Linked DNA regions of Homo sapiens. The protein of the gene in region 1 interacts with the protein of each later gene in a biochemical or structural test. Each region holds a gene or a part of one and is shown in the gene's direction. Other genes may lie near its edges.

What was found. The genes of interacting proteins can lie anywhere in the genome.
Region 2: the proteins of KCNA3 (region 1) and DEFB4A form a complex in vitro, tested with the Homo sapiens proteins (one study listed by BioGRID).

The regions. Positions count from the first base shown.
Region 1 is NC_000001.11:110,671,965-110,678,888, reverse strand, and holds KCNA3 (potassium voltage-gated channel subfamily A member 3), read left to right. Parts: upstream 1-3,948; 5' UTR 3,949-4,079; coding exon 4,080-5,807; 3' UTR 5,808-6,424; downstream 6,425-6,924.
Region 2 is NC_000008.11:7,889,738-7,897,234, forward strand, and holds DEFB4A (defensin beta 4A precursor), read left to right. Parts: upstream 1-4,939; 5' UTR 4,940-4,975; coding exon 4,976-5,033; intron 5,034-6,736; coding exon 6,737-6,873; 3' UTR 6,874-6,979; downstream 6,980-7,497. UniProt on the Homo sapiens protein: Exhibits antimicrobial activity against Gram-negative bacteria and Gram-positive bacteria, with highest activity against Gram-negative bacteria.

The DNA.
Region 1 (6,924 bases):
TGAAAATGGCCATACTGCCCAAAGTAATTTATAGATTCAATGCTATCCCCATCAAGCTACCCCTGACTTTCTTCACAGAATTATAAAAAACTACTTTAAATTTCATATGGAACCAAAAAAGAGCCCATATAGCCAAGACAATACTAAGCAAAAGAACAAAGCTGGAGGCATCACACTACCTGACCTCAAACTATACTACAAGGCTACAGTAACCAAAAGAGCATGGTACTGGTACCAAAACAGATATATAGACCAATGGAACAGAACAGAACAGAGGCCTCAGAAATAACACCACACATCTACAACCATCTGATCTTTGACAAACCTTACAAAAACAAGCAATAAGGAAAGACTCCCCTATTTAATAAATGGGAAAACTGGCTAGCCATATGCAGAAAACTGAAACTGGACCCCTTCCTTATACAGTATACAAAAATTAACTCAAGATGGATTAAAGACTTAAACGTAAAACCTAAAACCATAAAAACCCTAGAAGAAAACCTAGGCAATACCATTTAGGACATAGGCATGGGCAAAGACTGCATGAGTAAAAGCAATGCGAACAAAAGCCAAAATTGACAAATGGGGCCTAATTAAACTAAAGAGCTTCTGCACAGCAAAAGAAACTATCATCAGAGTGAACAGACAACCTACAGAATGGGAGAAAATTTTTGCCATCTATCCATCTGACAAAGGGTTAATATCCAGAATCTACAAGGAACTTAAACAAATTTACAAGAAAAAAACAATCCCATCAAAAAGCGGGTGAAGGATATGAACAGACACTTCTCAAAAGAAGACATTTATGCAGCCAACAAACATGAAAAAAAGCTCACCATCACTGGTCATTAGAGAAATGCAAATCAAAACCACAATGAGATACCATCTCATGCCAGTTAGAATGGCGATCATTAAAAAGTCAGAAAACAACAGATGCTGGAGAGGATGTGGAGAAATAGGAACGCTTTTACACTGTTACTAGGTGCTATTTCTCCATTCATTTATCTGTAATTGTGGATCAGGACCTCTAGCCCTGCCTTGTCCCACTCTCAAACACTTCTGAGCTAATCCTAAATGCTGCTTACCATCTGGCAAACAACTGGTGAACTATTTCTGGGATTGATGTGGTCAGTAGGAAACACAAACTATGCCTAGAGCAACACAGAAAGGCCAAACACCAAGATTTATTTACCCTTGCTGTTTGCAAACCTGACGGTTTTAGTCAGGCTCTAGTATTGCAGACTGAAATATGAGGAAATCCTGCACATGCTCAGAGAAGCTGTTGGCTTTGCCACAGTTCTACGCCTAAACGTTATAATAATATTATTATTATCCCACAGGGGTGTTATGAGGATTAATGAGACATTTTCAAATCACTTTGAGCTACTCTGTTGGGGGTACTAAATAAATGCTATGTTTTCCTCTTGAAATGCCATTTTTGGCATTGATTTGTTGTGATGGGTTCGGCTGTCCAACAGGGCTAGAATGAGCCCACCAACTCATTTTCTATAGACAACAGACGAGCCGTCAGAAGGAGTGGTTTTCAGTTAAGATAAATATGAATTGAAGTGAACTAGTCGGCAATCAGAAGCAAATAGGCTGCTGTTAGAAATCTAGTATATTAAGTACTCACAGTGATCAACACAAGCGTTGCACAGTGTGATACAGTAAAGCAAACACTGGATTTGGAAATGGTCCAAGATTTTAGGCCCAGCTCTGCTGCTAACTAGCTATGTGAGCTTAAGCAAATTGCTAAACTTCTCTGGGCCCCAAATACAAAGTAAGGACTTTATATGTGTCCTAAGAAGCACATAATCAAAGTCTTCCAGACAAGGCAAATACATGAAAGGGAATGGAAATAGTCACTTATGAAGGAAAGACATTTCACAGCTGGGAGAAGCTTGTGACCATTTGTCACAGGACTATCCTCTGCTCTGGTCTTCCTTGCCATTGATTAATATTAATTTCAGTACTAATTCCTGCAAAAGAAGGAATAAATCATTTTCTAAGTCAGACATAGAAGTACATGAAACATCTGGTCTTTAAAAATAGGGTCTTTGCCTTTCCATGAGCTATCATTGCAGCAAGCAGTCTGTCTCATTCTAAGATTTAAATATATGAATGATTGATTATACTGCTACTCTAATCACCAGCTCAAAATATATACGCAAAATAATGAGGTGGCTGTCACATTCCAGTGTTCTGGAGTTTTGTAAGAGAAAGAGTTTTACGTGGTTGCCCAGTTTTGCCATTCCACAACATAAGTGACTGCCTGCATTGTCTGGCACTGACCAGGAGGTGAAACGGAAGATGAAGGGACAATAAAAGGACATGGGTGCCTGTTGTGCCCAGGAGAGCCGGAGGTGGAAATCCTATGGAATAAATGAGCAGTGTTTTCTATGGTGAGCTCAGTTTTTCCTCACTCCTCATCCTAGGAATCACAGCAGCATCTTGGGCTCAAAAAGAAGAAATGTTGAAACTCCAGAGCAGATAGCAACGCAAAGAGACACTCCTTGGGGAATTCAATCTGACAAGTATGTACCAAGTCTCCACCATTTACAAGGCACTTTGGTAGTTGCTAGAAATATAAGTTGGCTAGGACCTACTCTGTGCCCTAGAGAACCCCATGGTTGGGAGTGGTGGTGGGAAGTATTGACCACAAATCACTTACTTAAAATTGAATTGTCAGCTAACTTTGGGTGGGTGAGGAGCTGTCTAGACAATAGTTCCTCTTCTGTAAATGATTTGAATGATACAATAAAAAACAGACTTTTTAAAGCCTAGGGTTGAGTTATATTAGATTGCTAAAATTTCTGGAAACAAATTGTGTTCAAAGTAACCACAATAATTTGGAAAAATAAGTTTAAAGAAGATACATGTAAGTTATCTCTGGGCCCAGATCAAGCAAGAGGTACAAGTTGCAGAATGAATGTCCTTCCAGTTTAACAACTAGAGCGCTGCAAATTCCCTACCACAAGGGCAGTGCCAAAATATTAAGTAAAAAGTCTAGGTACAGGTCCTGCTCTCATCCCTTCCACGACAGGCTTGAGTCATAAAGCTGGACTTTCTAACCACACAACTTCGACTTCGTGAATTTCCTTTCCCATTTTTCCTCTTATTTCCCCGCCAACAGGAAACCTGTGTAGTGGATAAAGACCAGGCTGTCACTGCTAATCCCAATCAGAAACTTGGTCCTTGATTCTTCCCAGTGGCCGACATCTCCGCTGCGAAAACGGGTGTGAACTATTCACTAAAGCAGCAGGGCCCGAACGCCTTTAACAATCCATTTCCTTCGGACTCCGTTTGCGAAGCCCATCAGCACCCATTACTCCCTTTGGCTTCGCATCCTAGCAGAAGCTAAATTGTTTAAACCCCCGCTCCTCCCCAGGGTTTGGCGGTCCTCGACCCTCAAGGGAACCTGGGATGCCGGCGCCAGGCTTGCCTCTGGCCCAGGGCGCCCGCCTGGCCTGCACTCCCTCCCTGGACACTGGGCCCGCCTGCCCTCCCCGGGCTGTACCTAGGGGTGTGGAGGCCAGGGGGCCGGCGCCCGCGGGGCCGCGGCGGGAGCTCTCCCGGCCCACGGGCCGAAAACCCTGGCGACTGGGACGCGGCCAGGCGGGCCGGGGGCGAGGGGCGCTGACCAGAAGCGGGCGGAGCCTAGGGGCCCGGGCCGGCAGCCTGACTCCCCGTGGGCCGGCTCTGCTGGGTGGGCATTCCCGCGGGGCGCCGAGGTACAACATGAGGGCTCTTTCGCTGACACCGAGGGGCCTTGAGGGCTGCAAGAAATGCAGGCCCGGCGGCTGCCCCCGAGAGCGGGACGCGCGCCCGCGCGGTGGGCGGGAATCCTAAGGGGACGCGGAGGCGGGCGCGCGCCCCGCAGGGGAGGGGGCGGAGAGCGCGAGAAGGAGGGAGGAGGCGTCCCCGTGCGGGAGCCCGGCTGACCGCGCCAGACCCAGACAGAGCATCGCGGCTTTGGCTGCAACAGGCGGTGGGCTCGGCTCGGGGGCGGAGGCGGCGAAAGGGCGGGGAGCGCGAGGAGGAGCGACCTGGCCTCACCGCTGCCGCCTCTTCCCCGCCGCATGGACGAGCGCCTCAGCCTTCTGCGCTCGCCGCCGCCGCCCTCAGCCCGCCACCGCGCCCACCCTCCTCAGCGCCCAGCGAGCAGCGGCGGTGCCCACACGCTGGTGAACCACGGCTACGCGGAGCCCGCCGCAGGCCGCGAGCTGCCGCCCGACATGACCGTGGTGCCCGGGGACCACCTGCTGGAGCCGGAGGTGGCCGATGGTGGAGGGGCCCCGCCTCAAGGCGGCTGTGGCGGCGGCGGCTGCGACCGCTACGAGCCGCTGCCGCCCTCACTGCCGGCCGCGGGCGAGCAGGACTGCTGCGGGGAGCGCGTGGTCATCAACATCTCCGGGCTGCGCTTCGAGACGCAGCTGAAGACCCTTTGCCAGTTCCCCGAGACGCTGCTGGGCGACCCCAAGCGGCGCATGAGGTACTTCGACCCGCTCCGCAACGAGTACTTCTTCGACCGCAACCGGCCCAGCTTCGACGCCATCCTCTACTACTATCAGTCCGGGGGCCGCATCCGCCGGCCGGTCAACGTGCCCATCGACATTTTCTCCGAGGAGATCCGCTTCTACCAGCTGGGCGAGGAGGCCATGGAGAAGTTCCGCGAGGACGAGGGCTTCCTGCGGGAGGAGGAGCGGCCCTTGCCCCGCCGCGACTTCCAGCGCCAGGTGTGGCTGCTCTTCGAGTACCCCGAGAGCTCCGGGCCGGCCCGGGGCATCGCCATCGTGTCCGTGCTGGTCATCCTCATCTCCATTGTCATCTTCTGCCTGGAGACGCTGCCGGAGTTCCGCGACGAGAAGGACTACCCCGCCTCGACGTCGCAGGACTCATTCGAAGCAGCCGGCAACAGCACGTCGGGGTCCCGCGCAGGAGCCTCCAGCTTCTCCGATCCCTTCTTCGTGGTGGAGACGCTGTGCATCATCTGGTTCTCCTTCGAACTGCTGGTGCGGTTCTTCGCTTGTCCTAGCAAAGCCACCTTCTCGCGAAACATCATGAACCTGATCGACATTGTGGCCATCATTCCTTATTTTATCACTCTGGGTACCGAGCTGGCCGAACGACAGGGCAATGGACAGCAGGCCATGTCTCTGGCCATCCTGAGGGTCATCCGCCTGGTAAGGGTCTTCCGCATCTTCAAGCTGTCGCGCCACTCCAAGGGGCTGCAGATCCTCGGGCAAACGCTGAAGGCGTCCATGCGGGAGCTGGGATTGCTCATCTTCTTCCTCTTTATTGGGGTCATCCTTTTCTCCAGCGCGGTCTACTTTGCCGAGGCAGACGACCCCACTTCAGGTTTCAGCAGCATCCCGGATGCCTTCTGGTGGGCAGTGGTAACCATGACAACAGTGGGTTACGGCGATATGCACCCAGTGACCATAGGGGGCAAGATTGTGGGATCTCTCTGTGCCATCGCCGGTGTCTTGACCATCGCATTGCCAGTTCCCGTGATTGTTTCCAACTTCAATTACTTCTACCACCGGGAGACAGAAGGGGAAGAGCAATCCCAGTACATGCACGTGGGAAGTTGCCAGCACCTCTCCTCTTCAGCCGAGGAGCTCCGAAAAGCAAGGAGTAACTCGACTCTGAGTAAGTCGGAGTATATGGTGATCGAAGAGGGGGGTATGAACCATAGCGCTTTCCCCCAGACCCCTTTCAAAACGGGCAATTCCACTGCCACCTGCACCACGAACAATAATCCCAACTCTTGTGTCAACATCAAAAAGATATTCACCGATGTTTAATATGTGATACAAGTGACATGCTGTGCTCAGTATTGTGTGGAACGTGCCCCCTTGGTCTGCCTATGCCCTTGTTTTATACATTTCCAGACCATTCATCAAGGAAAGGACCTGAAGAAGTGGAAAGCACACTTCATTCTCCCTCTCCCTGCTGCTTCATACTGAAACAGGTGCCTGTTTTGCAAGTGGGCTGCATTCTCTCAGCTCTCCTTTTCCCTCTTACCCTCTCTCTCTTAACATTGTAAACAACAGACTTACGTTAAACTTCATTTCTAGTACACGCCCTATTTAAAAAAGAGCAGTACATCCTGGGAGGAAATGAAACTAAAGAACAGTTAGAGTAACTGTTTAACCTCAGAATTTTAAAGGCAGTTGTTTCTTTCCTAAGCACATCAATTCGTAGTAAATGATGCTTCGGTTTGATGGACCTTTCAACGTTATTTATTGAATATGTATTTCGGTTGCCTACCCTGTAGATATGTGGATGAAGAGTCTAACTAGAATAATGACTTGTAAACCCACCATGAGTTATTTGGTTTTTGACTTAAATTCCTATTTGAATCCCCTTTCCCGGAATTTTAAGTGTCTCTACAACTTTGAATAAAGGGAAATGCCCAAGATGTCCTGATCTGACTAATTAGTTTAATTCTTTCGGGCTTGCTAAGCATTTCTAAAGCATTAGACTAACAGATTCCTGTGAAGTTCTGTGCATATGTCCCAGCCCCAACAACTATCAAAGTCTAGAAACAGATGTTTTCAGTGTTGCTGAGAGAAACAAAAAATTTCCTAATGCATCTGAGAGATAAGCTTCGGCAGTATCACAAGAAGATTAAAGTGGCAGACACCCCTTCCAGCGGAAGTTACTAATTCGGACCTGACTGATGCAGTTTCCATAGCAACCCATGTTTCCTGGGAAACCCGAAAAAGGTTGTCATGGCATCTCTTGCTCTCTAGCCCCACCTCCCAGCCCCTGCCGTTTCCACAGTAACCTTTCCAGATGGTTCCTACTTAAATGATTTCATAAGGAAAACCACTGTTTGAATAAGCCGCACAAAAAATAAAGTTAAGTCTGAGACTCTAAGGAGGTGAAATGAATCCCAAATGCATTTTTTAACTATGA
Region 2 (7,497 bases), on another chromosome or scaffold:
ATGAACACAGCTGTGAAGGAGTCACACTGGGCTGTGCCAGGAGAAAAGAAGCAGCTGCAACCGTAGGAATCTTCATGGGAACAGTCAGCCCAGCTGTCCTTGAGCAACCAGGCACATATTCCCTAAGCCTTGGTGGCTTCTTCCCCAGGGACACAGGTGCTGCATTTCACAGTGACTTTCCTATTTCAGAGTAATTTCACCTCCTTCTCTAACAAGGCCTCACAAATGTACTGAGAGCTAGAGAGGACAACAAGTGAAAAACCACAGTGCTATCGGTGGTTCCTGGGATTGGAACAGGTGTGTAGGAAAAATTCACTCTCTTTTATGGGTGAGTTTTTAAATGTGAGTGTATTACTTTTATAATAATAATGTTAAGCATAGTAGTCATTAAGAATGTATCGATCAGGAATGAAGTCTCACATGAAAAAGATGGCAACCAGTCCCTTAATTCAAACTCTAAGCCCCAATAAGGTTCTTCTCATAGTACCATGACATTTCCTTAAGAATATTTACTCAACAAATTAAGAGACATGACAACCTGATTTGATGTGCAAATCTAGATTAAACATGTATCCAGAAACATCAACAGCCATGAAGCCATGGTTGGAACAATTGGAGAAATGTGAAATATTGACAAGATAATAAATAACATTGAGGAACTAGTTTTCTTAATGTGTGTAAATTGTATTGTGTTTGATGTGGGAATGTCCCCTCATATGTAAGAGATTCTGCTGAGATAATTACAGTGAAGTGTCATGATGTTTGCGTCTTTCTTTTTTAACTTTAAACAAATTTTTAGTACACAAAGGTTGTCACATAATTGGAAGTTTCTCTACTTTGTACACAATTATTCTCACTCTGCACAGAAAGGCTGCTTAACTTCTCATTTGGTGGTTGCAAGCACTAAAATCCTGATTTTAACAGAATAGACTACTATTCATTTTTACTAAAAAATGCCTCAGTGATTTAAGTTGAAAACAGTACATCAGTACATGGCTCTTGTACCCAGTGTCAGGAATGTACAAGATCTTTCTATTCAAAAATACAAACTAAATTATCTGTAGGCATGGATGACAGCTGTAAACCATTATATATTTTGTCAGTTGAAACCAGTAACTGATGGTTATAGTGGTTTCTTAAACATCAGCCAGCCTTTTCTTCATTTTCTCCAACTGACTTCTCTGAAGTTATTGGTGAGGAACACTGCCTTGGGCTTCCTATCACAATTCATTAATAAAGGTAAAGCACTATTCTAGGAATTAGAACAGGCCACCTCCCATTCCACACATTGCACCCATTCCAGGGCTGTTCCCTTCTTTAGGAATTTTTGTGACTACAACAGCTGCTGTAGTTAATAGAGAGGCCATGCCAGCAGCATCCAATAAAGCAGTTCTCACAACCTTTGTTGGGTCAATAATGTCTTTTTCCACCATATTCACGACATCTCCTAACATAGTATCATAACCAACTTCTGAGGAACTTTGCATAATTTTCTCAACTATCAAAAATCCATCAACACCTGCATTCTTAGCAATAGTCATTGCTGGAATTTTGAGTGTTCTTTTAATAATTTCTATGCCAATTATTTTATCTTCATTAGCTGGAGTGAATGAGTCCAAGGCTGGAATGCATCGAAGCAGGGCACAACCCCCTCCCTAAACAATGCCTTCTTCAACAGCAGCTCTTGTAGCATTAAGTGCACCTATAACTCTGTCTTTCTCTTCATTCACTTCAACATCACTTGTCCCACCAACCTTCAGCACAGCTACTCCATCTGAAAGTTTCTCCATTCAGTTTTTCCTTTTCGTATTCACTAGTTGTGACATCTGACTGGTCAATGATTTCTTGAACACATTTTTCAATTTGAGACTTGTTACCTTTTCCTTTTAAGAGCATGGCATCATCTTTGATCACAGTGACCTCTCCAACTTCTCCTACATCACGAGGCTGAACGTCTTCAAGATTTAGTGTCAGCCCTCTTCTCCAAACACTGTACCACCAGTAGCAATAACCGTATCTTTAAGCTGGTTCTTTCTATTGTCACCAAACCCTGGAGCTTTGACTGCCACAACCTGAAGACCAACCTTTAGCCTATTCAGGATGAGTGTAGTTAGAGCTTCTCCATCAATGTCTTCAGCAATTATGACCAAAGGCTTACAGTAAGCATTGGCAATTTCAAGAGCAGGTACAATGGACTGGACACTAGAAATTTTCTTTTCATGCAACAGAACATAGGCATCCTGGAATTCACATTTCTCACCTTTTGATGTATTAAGAAAGTATGGAGAAATATATCCTCTATCAAATTTTCATGCCTTCAATAATTTCTAATTCATCAGTCAGTGTTTTTCCATCCTTTACTGTGATGATGCCCTTTCTTCCAAACTTTTTCATTGCATCAGAGATGATGTTACCAATTTCTTTGTCTCCATTTGCAGAAATTGTAGCAACCTGTGCAATTTCTTCAGGTTTGGTCACAGGTTTAGACTGCTTTTTAAGTTCAGCAATTACAGCATCAACAGCTAACATCACACCTCTCTTGATTTCCACTGGATTAGCACCTTTGCTAACCTTCTGGAAGGCTTATTTGGAAATAGAGCATACCAGTACAGCAGCAGTGATAGTGCCATCCCCCAGTCTCTCCATTTGTGTTATTGGCAACATCTTGGACAAGTTTAGCTCCAATGCTTTTATATTTATCCTTTAAGTCAATTGACTTTGCATCAGTCACACCATCTTTTGTTACTTTGGGACTTCCCCAGCTATGTTCAATAATTACTGTTCTTCCCTTTGGCCCCATTGTAATGGCTACAGCATCGACAAAAAGTCTACACTTTGAAGCATTAAGGCTCAGACATCAGCACCAAATTTTACATCTTTACCATCACTTCAAGTGAGGTGAGGAGCCAGTAGCCTGGACACTGGTCTCATCTGGTGAAAGACTGTGGGTAATGGAAGCATTTCTGTGGGGTGGTGGCAGGACATGTGCATGGTGAGGCAGGTCATCAGCAGCAAGTGAGAGCTGCCTCTTACTTTCTAAAGGTGACATAGCAAGTATACAAAAAAAAAATAAAATATTAATTTAGGCAGAGCACATAAAGGCTTTATTTCATATTCCATTTCTCTGTATGCTTTCTTCACCAGGAAGAAATAGTTTTAGTGTCAGGAATGAATGAGTCTGCCCCTCAATTCCAGCCTGCTCAGCACACAAGGAAACAAAGCCCTGACAATCAGAGTGACTCCCTGGTGACTAAGCTCCAGTCCTGGATGCATATTTGTTTAGCAGTTCTGACAGCATCTGACCCAGCCCTCTCTTTGCATACCCCACCAGAACCTTCTTTTTTTTTTTTTTTCTTTGAGACTGAGTCTTGCTCTGTCGGAAGCGATTCCCGTGCCTCAGCCTCCCAAATACCTGGAATTATAGGCGTAAGCCATCATGCCTGGCTAATTTTTGTATTTTTCATGGAGATGGGGTTTTGCCATGTTGGTCAAATTGGTCTCACACTCCTGACCTCATGTGATCCACCTGCCTCAGCCTCCCAAAGTGCTGGGATGACAGGTGTAAGCCACCATGCTAGGCTCAGAAATTTCCTTTTATAAAAATGTCATTAAGGATCTTGGCTGCACAATATCGTTACCAGCTTCCTTTAAATCCACCTCTGGCCTGCCAGGAATCAGGGTTCTTCAGAACCTGACATTTTAAATGAAGAGGTCAGGCAGGTCATGAGGAAAGCCTCATTGTCCCCATGTCTCTGTCACTGCTGCACCCCTGAGACATCACAGACATGGACACTGGGGCCTGCTTGTTTCTCAAACTGCCCTTAGATCGAAAGAGGGAGGAACCAGGATGAATGCCACTCATTTTCCCAAGAAAGGCCCTCTCCTGAGTGCCCGGGATGGGGCTCTGTCCATTGCCTGGGGCCGCCAATTGCTACTCTGGGTTACGGAAGAAGGACAGGGTCCTGAGAGACACCAGAGACCTCACACAGCCCTGAAAACATGGGGCTCCTTCATAAGTGTTTCCCATCACCAACAGGGAGACCACGTGGAGGCCTTGCAGCCCTACTCGGTGCTTCTCCACCAAATCCCAAGGGCAGTGACGCTGACGTCTGTGGAAAGCAGAGAAAGCCCTGGCTCCCAAAGCCCTGAAGTCCTGTGGAGCTGACATTCCCTGAGTGACGGTGTGAATGGAAGGAACTCAAGTGCGGGTGGTAGGCCACCTCCTGGCCCAGGCCTGGGTGAACTCTGAGGGGACACATGTAGTCACAATCCCATCCTCCCATTCTCCTTCTCAGAGGAAGGAAGTGGGCATCCATCTGCCTCATCTCTCTCCCGTGGGGAAGATGGGGAGTTTCAGGGGAACTTTCACATAAATTTCACCAGCTCAGATCTCCTGTGAGGATGGGGCCCACCATGCTCCCGGTGCTGCCAGAGGCCCTGAGCCCCTCCAGGGTCCCTGGGTTTGAGCCAGCCCTGTATCATCCCCAGGAGCTGAATGTCCGAGCAATGGATAGAATTAGATGGAAAGAGCTCTCAATTTGGCCTGAGACTGTCCCCAGATACTCAGGAAAAACAGGACGTCGCACAGAGTGGGCAGCAGGTGAGTGGCAGGTTATAGGTCCTGAGTTTGAGTTTGTTCTCACGTGAGACAGACCCAGCCCCTCACTCCATTCACACACTGGGTTTTAAATGGTGCAAGATAGGAGGAATTTTCTGGTCCCAAGAGCAGGAGGAAGGGATTTTCTGGGGTTTCCTGAGTCCAGATTTGCATAAGATCTCCTGAGTGTGCATTGTTCTTTGAGGACCATTCTCTGACTCACCAGGTAAGTGGCTGAATTCTAACCTCTGTAATGAGCATTGCACCCAATACCAGTTCTGAACTCTACCTGGTGACCAGGGACCAGGACCTTTATAAGGTGGAAGGCTTGATGTCCTCCCCAGACTCAGCTCCTGGTGAAGCTCCCAGCCATCAGCCATGAGGGTCTTGTATCTCCTCTTCTCGTTCCTCTTCATATTCCTGATGCCTCTTCCAGGTGAGATGGGCCAGGGAAATAGGAGGGTTGGCCAAATGGAAGAATGGCGTAGAAGTTCTCTGTCTCCTCTCATTCCCCTCCACCTATCTCTCCCTCATCCCTCTCTCTCCTTCCTCTCTCTGTGTGTCCCCTCCATCCTTTTCTCCTGCTTCTCTCTCTTCTTCCCTCTCTCTCTTTTTTTCTGTCTTTCTTTTTCCTCTCTCCCTAGAGCATGTCTTTCTTTCTTTCTCTTTCCTTTCTTCTACCCACACTTTTAGACTGAGTAGACTGAATGCCCTATTTAATTGAACCAAGCATTGCTTCCTTCAATAGAAAAGGAGTTTGAGAACCCAATGGACAACTCACTCGTTCTTCTAAGCCAATATGAAGGAGCCCAGTAGTTTGTAAATATCATCTCTTCACTGCTTTCCATGCTACAACTGCTGAGACTATGGTTGAAACCTGTTAGGTGACTTTTTAAATAAAAGGCAGAAATTTTGATTTTATCTAAAGAAAGTAGTATAGAATGTCATTTTCTAAATTTTTATATTTAAAGAGTAGATACTGCAACCTAGAGAATTCCAGATAATCTTAAGGCCCAGCCTATACTGTGAGAACTACTGCAGCAGACACTCTGCCCCCAGGACTTTTCTGATCAGAGGCCCTGAGAACAGTCCCTGCCACTAGGCCACTGCAGGTTCACAGGACAGGGACAGCCCATTGAAACCAACTTTTAAACCTGGATGCCTAACCTTCATTTTCTCCTTGATATTATGAAAATAAAATAAAAACCATGAAAGGATAAAAGAGGGAGAGTGGAAGGGAAGGATGGAGAAAGGGAAAAAGAAAATTTGAGAGTAAATCCTAAAACAATTAATCTAATAGATATCATCTTGTGAAATCCTCATTTTACCAATCTTATTTATGAGTCCTGGGTTTTGTGAGAACAATGGGGTTCTGAGAGGCACCAGAGACCTCATATTTTCCAAAACCTAGAACAGTATAATGAAGGAAGGCGGGGAGGCAGGGAGGCAGGGAGGCAGGCTGGTGGGAGGGGGAGGGAGGGAGGGAGGGAAGGAGGGAAGGAGGGAGGGAGGGAGGGAAGGAGGGAAGGAGGGAGGGAGGGAGGGAAACAAAAAGAAGAATGAGGTTGAAACCAGGACTTAGATATTAGAAACAAGCCATTACAAAATTTATTTCTATGGTTAATTGTGGTTTTCAACTGTAAGTTACTTGGTGTTAATTTCCTATTAAACAATTTCAGTAAGTTGCATCTTTTTTATCCCATCTCAGATCAAATACTTAACAGACTAAATGATTTGAAAAAGCAAAAGTTTACTGGCTTGTGTGTGTTAAAATGGAGGTATGGTGGCTTTGATATTATCTTCTTGTGGTGGAGCTGAATTCACAAGAGATCGTTGCTGAGCTCCTGCCAGACCCCACCTGGAGGCCCCAGTCACTCAGGAGAGATCAGGGTCTTTCACAATCAGGTTCTACAAAAATAAACATCCCCCAAACCACAGCAGTGCCAGTTTCCATGTCAGAAACTTAGATCCAAATGACTGACTCGCGTCTCATTATCATGATGGAAAAGCCCAGGCTTGAGAAAGAAGCCCGCTGCGGATTTACTCAAGGCGATACTGACACAGGGTTTGTGTTTTTCCAACATGAGTTTTGAGTTCTTACACGCTGTTTGCTCTTTTTGTGTGTTTTTTCCCTGTTAGGTGTTTTTGGTGGTATAGGCGATCCTGTTACCTGCCTTAAGAGTGGAGCCATATGTCATCCAGTCTTTTGCCCTAGAAGGTATAAACAAATTGGCACCTGTGGTCTCCCTGGAACAAAATGCTGCAAAAAGCCATGAGGAGGCCAAGAAGCTGCTGTGGCTGATGCGGATTCAGAAAGGGCTCCCTCATCAGAGACGTGCGACATGTAAACCAAATTAAACTATGGTGTCCAAAGATACGCAATCTTTATCCTAGTAATTGTGGTCATTGGATGATGTTGGTTTGGGCAGGCCATCTCTAATATCCTTGAAACACCTTTTTCTGCTCTCCAGGAAGGGGTCAGGGCTGCCACAGCGGGGCTTGGAGTGCTTTCCAGGGTCACAGGCATCTGTATTCTTTGGATTCCTTGACCTTCCCCATTTATTCCCGGCATTTTCCTAAAACGTGTGCTTTGCTCCTCCTGCATCCTCCCCTTGCATGCCCTCACCTATCCCACATCTTCCCTAAAAAAAGCAAGCCCAACTCAAAGACCAGTTCCCTCATGGAATCATAGTGGATCTGCCAAGGGAGGGGATGCCCAGTCCTCTGTTCTTCACAAGGACTCCCTTCTTCTGGCTAAGGTTTCTTATGCAATTATGCCTCCTACAGAGGTGCGTGAATTTTTAATTCTCCATTTAGCTATGAGATTTCTACTAGTGTGGACTTTGTCTTATTCATTTATGTGCTGGCCATTCATAAACTATTTCATTAATTGGATGGCA